Linked DNA regions of Homo sapiens. The protein of the gene in region 1 purifies or fractionates together with the protein of each later gene. This does not show direct contact. Each region holds a gene or a part of one and is shown on either strand. Other genes may lie near its edges.

Region 1 (3,759 bases):
CCTAGATTACTTTTCTGCTTTTACAAAAATCTCAGAATTTTGTTCAGTGAAACTTTTGACTGAATATAAAGAGGCTGGAGCAGAGAAAGCCTTCTGAATTCAGCACCAGAATCAAATATGAAGAAACTTATTTTTGCAGCATTAAGAGTCCAGGACCCAAACTCCGTTCTGCCACCCTAATTAGCTATAATTACCTTGAACATAGCATTGAGCATTTTTCCACCTTGCAGAGGGGGTGTTTAAAGCTTTTGTATAGAAAAGCAAGTATGCACATTTTCAGTGGACATAATAATAAAATATATAGCAATAAGAATATAAGATACAGAAAACAGAAACTTACGTGCAAAATTACTGGCATCACCAGTGTCTAGATAAAATTTCTGGCCCACATCATTTGTTTTCCCAGGATATCTATCAGCATAGTGACCCATCTGTGGGCAGCCTCCACTTGGACAAGGGAAACACTTGTTCTAGTGAAAACAAACAAATGATGAATGAGGATGCCCTATCTTTTAGTTGTGTACCATATTTCCTACATGTTGTCGCCATTCAAATATTCTAAAGCCAGTTCTGTTCTGATGATAAATGGGGACTTTAATAGTGTCTCAGCAGCAAAGATTAACAATGCATTTCATTATTCACAACAGTAAGTCACCAACTTCACTGTCAAACAACACAATACTATAAAAATCTACAACGAGCCGGGCGTGGTGGCTCACGCTTGTAATCCCAGCACTTTGGGAGGCTGAGGCAGGTGGATCACCAGAGGTCAGGAGTTCGAGACCAGCCTGACCAACATGGTGAAACCCCGTCTCTACTAAAAATGCAAAAATTAGTTGAGCATGGTGGCAGGCGCCTGTAATCCTAGCTACTCTGGAGGCTGAGGCAGGAGAATCGCTTGAATCCAGGAGGCAGAGGTTGCAGTGAGCCGAGGCTGCACTATTGCACTTAAGCCTTGGGCAAGAGAGCAAGACTCCATCTCAAAAAAAAAACAAATCATACAATGAGAGAATATGTGTGTGTGTGTGTGTGTGTGTATCTATCTTCTATTTTTTCTCTTTTGCCTAATTTGCTCCCAAGACATTCATCTACTTACAGCTAGAATTTATTTTAGAAAGATTGCATAAGTTGGCTGTGCATGGTGGCTCACACCTGTAATCCCAGCACTTTGGGAGGCCAAGGCTGGAGGATCACGAGGTCAGGAGATCAAGACCATCCTGGCTAACATGGTGAAACCCCGTCTCTACTAAAAATACAAAAAATTAGCCGGGCATGGTGGCGGGCGCCTGTAGTCCCAGCTACTTGGGAGGCTGAGGCAGGATGGTGTGAACCCAAGAGGTGGAGCTTGCAGTGAGCCAAGACAGCGCCACTGCACTCCAGCCTGGGTGACAGAGCGAGACTCCGTCTCAAAAAAAAAAAAAAAAGAAAGAAAGATTGCATAAGTAGAACAGAGATTATAATCAGCTTCTGATAAACAAAATAGAATTTATTAGGAGGACAATAGGCTCAAAAGTCAGGCTTTTTTCAATTCTTTTTTTTTTTTAAAGGTTTAAAAATGTTAGCCAGGATGGTCTCGATCTTGACTTCCTGATCCACCTGCCTCGGCCTCCCAAAGTGCTGGGATTACAGGCATGAGCCACCGCGCCCGGCTTTTTTCAATTGTTTTAGCTCATGTTTAGCATATCAAGCCCTGAAGGATTCAGATCCCGGAATTTTCTCTATGTGAAGAGAAAATGCCCCAGCTAGCCTAAGGCTTACTGTGAGGCTGATACCTGGAGAAGACATATTCGTATAGGAAAATACCCCTTATTTCTGGACCAAGGACTTCTGGGAAAAAGAGATGGAGAGGGAGGAACCAAGTTGGCAGGACAAGTGTCCCAATTCCCACTGTGAGGGGCAGGGCTACTCTACAGTGAAGGCAAGTGGTGGACTCCTGGCTCAATGGACCATATTATGGGCTTATCACAGTCCCAGGGTTGGCATTCAACAAAATCCAGGTGTTGCCTAAGCCAGCCGGGAAGAAATGGCCAAAGCTCTCTGAGGGCATTGCTAGAGCCAGAAGAATAGACAAGCCCAAGACGTCATCTCTAAATACAGCAGTGTGCCCATCAATAAAACAGGCAAGGCTATTACCCAGAGTCGAAAGGAGCCCAAAAACTTTACACCCATGGACTCCCAATTCATTTCCTCTGCTGAACACACATCGACCACCACCACCAGATCACCTGGCCCCAGCACTCACTTGGAGAGAAGCTTAGAAGGGAGTGCAAAGGTGAAGAAATCTGCAAGACTGAGACATTTTTTCTTATACAAGTGATGAGTATCACTTGAAAGAACTGTTTATATTGTTGAATTAGACTAAGTTTTAACTGAATGAAACCTGAGGCTTTTGTGTTTGCTTCTTTATTTTTTTCCCCCATTACTTATTGTTGGGTATTGGGGAAGAAAATAAAAATAAAGTTAAAATAAATAAAGAAGGGATCTTCTGTCTCACTGCATATGGAAGCTGTAGTGTGAATAATATATGTACTCCCTCTCCCATAATAGCTAACATTAATTGAATGCTATTATATTTTTTTGCTCTGGGCTAAGCAATTAACGTATGTATTCTCATTAAGTCCTCTCACCAAATATGTTAAGTTTGCCATCAGTATTTACATTTATACATGAAGAAACTTCTTGGAGAACTGTTTTGCCCAAAGATATTCAGCTATTTAATGGTGAAACCAAGATTTGCATCCTCTCTCTTAATCACTAAGGTATATATCCTGGGTAATTGTGACTTCAGCTGGCACATTTGTTACTGGAAATTTTCTTATTAAATCCATAGGTTTTAAATTTTTATTTCAAAAATTTATGGTACAAAGCAAAGTCAATTTTATAAAAAAAAAAACCCAGACAATAGATATGTCATATTTGAGATCACATATAAAGAATTCAACCAAGAGGAAGCCACTACAGCACACATTTACCTATGTAACAAACCTGCACGTTCTGCACTAGTATCCTGGAACTTAAAGTAAAATTAAATAAATAATTCAACCAAGATATCAAGAGAATACCAAATAAGATGAAAATTCAAAAAAAAATTTTGGCCATTATGAAATTGCACAGAAATGTCCACATGTCTATAATTATATATTAATAGTTAGAAAGGTCAGCATTTAAGAAAATTTTTCCATGTTCATCAGCATCCTACAGATATTGCTCAGATTTCCATAGACTAATTATTTTTTGTCTGTTTAGGGTTATTTCTAAAACAAGTTTGGACATTTACCCAATGCATACAAAAGTAACACAAATGAAAGTAAACAGGACATTTCCATGTACAAGCTCATTTCTCTAAAGTGCTCTAATTTATCACTATTTAAATACATATAATTAAAGGCATGTATAAGTTCAAAAGTATAAACATTCATTGAATGATGTCATGTATAGGAAAGCACACCAGTCATGAGAAGTGACAGTCACAAAATTCTTTATGCGGAAGGTGGAGTCTACTTACTGCAGTGAAGACGTTGTAAGAGGCACAGGGGAATCCAGCAAAGCCATCAGGGTTGACGATGCTATCAGTGTAATATTTGTAGCTTCTTAAGTGATTACAGGCCGCAAAGTCTCGAGTCCCTTTGAATCAGACACAATTACACATCAAGGACAGATTTTATTTTTCCAAGTTAACGTCATATTCAGAATATAGTGGTTGAATAGATTTCTCTAATTAGTGTGAGCTCATGCAGGTCACAGAACAAAGTCATTTGT
Region 2 (3,759 bases), on another chromosome or scaffold:
TGAAAAATGACATTAGAATTTTGATAGGAATTACATTTGATAGGAATTACATTTGATAGAAATTACATTGAATCCTGGCCTGGGATTAATTTCTTAATATCTTTTTCAGATAGTTTGTCATTAGTATAAAGAAATGCTGGCTGGGTGTGGTAACTCATGCCTGTAATCCCAGCACTTTGGGAGGCTGAGGTGGGTGGATCACCTGAGGTCAGGAGATTGAGACCATCCTGGCTAACATGGTGAAACCCTGTCTCTACTAAAAAAAACAAAACAAAACAAAAAAAATATATATATATACACACACGTATATATATATATATACACACACGTATATATATATACACACACACGTATATATATGTACACACACGTATATATATACACACACGTATATATATATACACACACGTATATATATACACACACGTATATATGTACACACACGTATATATATACACACACACGTATATAGATATACACACACATATATATACACACACATATAGATATACACACACATATATATACACACACGTATATATATACACGTATATATACACACACACGTATATATATACACGTATATATACACACACACGTATATATGTGTATATATACACACACACGTATATATGTGTGTATATATACACACGTATATATATGTATATATATACGTATATATATATACACACATATATATATACACGTATATATATATATACACACACATATATATATATACACGTATATATATATATATATTAGCCTGGTGTGGTGGCGGGTGCCTGTACTCCCAGCTACTCAGGAGGCTGAGGCAGGAGAATGGCATGAGCCCAGGAGGCAGAGTTTGCAGTGAGCCGAGATCGTGCTACTGCACTCCAGCCTGGGCAACAGAGTAAGACTCCGTCTCAAAAAAAAAAAAAAACAAAGAAAAACATGGCATCTACAGTCAGGGACAACATAACGTCTTTGTTTCCAGCTTGGATGCTGTTTCTTTCTTTCTCTTGCCTAATTGCTCTGTCTAGTATGTCCGGTATTACATGGAATAGAAGTGGCAAGAGTATGCATCCTTGGCTTGTTCTGAATCTAACAGGCAAAGGTTTCCATTTTTCCCCATTGAGTATAATGTTAGCTGTGGGCTTTTCATATATGACTCATGTTAAGGTACATTCCTTCAATGCCTAACTTGTCAAGAGTTTTTCTCATGAAAAGATGTTGAATTTTATCAATGCCTTTGCATATATTGAGGTGAACATTTGGTTTTGTCCTTCATTCTGCTAACATGGTATATCACATTTGTAGTTTGCATATGTTGAATCATCCTTTGATCCTAGGGATAAACCCCACTTAATTTTGGTATATGATCCCTTTAATGTGCTGTTGAATTCACTTTGCTAGTATTTTGTTAGAATGTTTGCATCTATGTTCATTAGGGATATTGGCCTGTATTTTTTTTTCTTCTAGTAGTATTCTTGTCTGGCTTTGGTGTCAGTGTAATGCTGGTATCATAAAATGAGTTTGGAAGTGTTTCCTCTTCTTCAATTTTATGGAAGAATTTGAGAAGGATTGGTATTAGTTCTTCTTTAAATTAGAATTCTGCCATGAAGCCATCTGGTTCTGGGCTTTTCTTGATGGAAAATTATTATTATTATTATTATTATTTGAAACGGAGTCTTGCTGTGTCGCCCAGGCTGGAGTACAGTGGTGCAATCTCAGCTCACTGCAACCTCCACCTCCTGGGTTCCAGTGATTCTCCTGCCTCAGCCTCCCAAGTGGCTGGGATTACAGGCGTGTGCCACAACACCCGGCTAATTTTTTGTATTTTTAGTAGAGACGGGGTTTCACCGTGTTGGCCAGGCTGGCCTGAAATTCTTGACCTCAGGTGATCCACCTGCCTCGGCCTCCCAAAGTGCTAGGATTACAGGTGTGAGCCACTGCACCTGGCCAATTTTTAAAATTATTTATTCAGTTTCCTTATTTGTTATCAGTCTGTTCAGATTTTCTACTTTTTCTTGATTCAGTCTGGGTAGGCTGTATGTTTCTAGGAATTTATTCATTTTTTTCAAGGTTATCAAATTTGTAGATATATAATTGTTTATAAGTAGTTTCTTATGATCCGTTTTATTCTGTGATATTGAACCCTTGTTTATAGATGAGGAACTTGACAATTCCTAAGCTGCTGAGGAGTCTATTAATTGGCTCACTCAAATGATTTGAAAATAAGACATTGTGTCTGTAAAGAGTGTATTTCTGACAGATGGTATGGTTGAAGGCCTGTGGTTTTTGAAAAAAGTTGAGATAGAATTCATATAGAATGCAATACACTCTTTCAACATGTACAATTCAGTGGTTTTTAATATAGTTATGAGGTGTTACAACTATCACTGCCTAATTCCAGAATACTTCATCATCTCAAGAAGAAACTCTATGCCCATTAGCAATCATTCCCCATTCCTGCCTCCCCCTAGCCTCTGGCAACCACTAATCTACTTTGTGTCTCTTTGGATTTGCCTATTCTGGACATTTCATATGAATAGATTCATACAATATGTGGCCCTTTGTGATTGGATTCTTTCACTTAATATAGTATTTTCAAGGTTCACGCATGTTGTAGCATGAACCAATACTTATTTATGTCTGAATATTATTCCATTTTATAGATATACCAAATTTTGTTTACTTATTCATCAGCTGATATACATTTGGATTGTTTCTGCTTTTTGGCTATTATGAATAATGCTGCTATGAATGTTTTTGTACAAGTTTTTACATGGACATATGTTTTTATTTCTCTTGGGTATATACCTAGGAGAACTGCAGGGTCATATAACTCTTCGTTTAGCTTTTTGAGAAACTGCCAGACTGTTTTCCAAAGCAGCTGAACTATTTTACATTCCTACCAGCAATATGTGAGGGTTCCAATTTCTTCACATCCTCATCAGCACTTGTTGTTGTGTCTTTTTTGTTATAGCCATGCTAGTGATCATGAAGTGGAACCTCATTATAGTTTTGATTTGCATTTCCCTAATGACTCATGATGTTGAGCATGGACCTGCATTTTTTAACTGAAAATTTTCAGTGTCATCCTCAGATCCTGTGCTCAGTGTTGGGAATAGAGCTGTGAATAAGGCAGCCCCAATTGCTGTCTTCTTGGAGTTTAGAGTTCATGTGGGAAGGTAGATAGGAACAAAGTAGTTGCAATTAGGGTTTTTATAAGGAATTATACAAACAGCCCCTTAGTAAACTTTAAAACTTTCTATTTTAGTGAGGTAAGCCTTTTTCATGATTGTTGGAGGCCAAAATTCATGCAGTGGTTATTTAAAGATATTATAGATTGCATTTTTACATGTGCTTTTAAAAATAATTCAAAAGAAACAAAAGCATATGCGAATAAAAAATGTATAAAGAAAAAAGTGGGGCTGGGCACAATGGCTCATAATCCCAGCAGTTTGGAAGGCCGAGGTGGGAGGATCACTTGAGCGCAGGAGTTGCAGACCAACCTTGGCAACATAGTGAGACCTCATCACTTAAAAAAAAAATCAGCTTGGCCGGGCGCAGTGGCTCACACCTGTAATCCTAGCACTTTGGGAGGCCGAGGCGGGTGGATCACCTGAGGTCAGGAGTTCAAGACCAGCCTGGCCAACTTGGTGAAAACCTGTCTCTGCTAAAAATACAAAAATTAGCCGGGCATGGTGGTGGGCGCCTGTAATCCCAGCTACTCAGGAGGCTGAGGCAGGAGAATCACTTGGACCCGGGAGG

What was found. Proteins that work in one complex are often made in the same cells at the same time.
Region 2: the proteins of PNLIP (region 1) and SUMF1 purify together in Homo sapiens (affinity purification with mass spectrometry; 2 studies listed by BioGRID and IntAct, with this or other methods). This does not show direct contact.

Annotation. Positions count from the first base shown.
Region 1 is NC_000010.11:116,555,865-116,559,623, reverse strand, and holds part of PNLIP (pancreatic triacylglycerol lipase precursor), read right to left. Parts: intron 3,625-3,759; coding exon 3,506-3,624; intron 471-3,505; coding exon 341-470; intron 1-340. UniProt on the Homo sapiens protein: Plays an important role in fat metabolism.
Region 2 is NC_000003.12:4,453,621-4,457,379, reverse strand, and holds part of SUMF1 (formylglycine-generating enzyme isoform 1 precursor), read left to right. Parts: intron 1-3,759.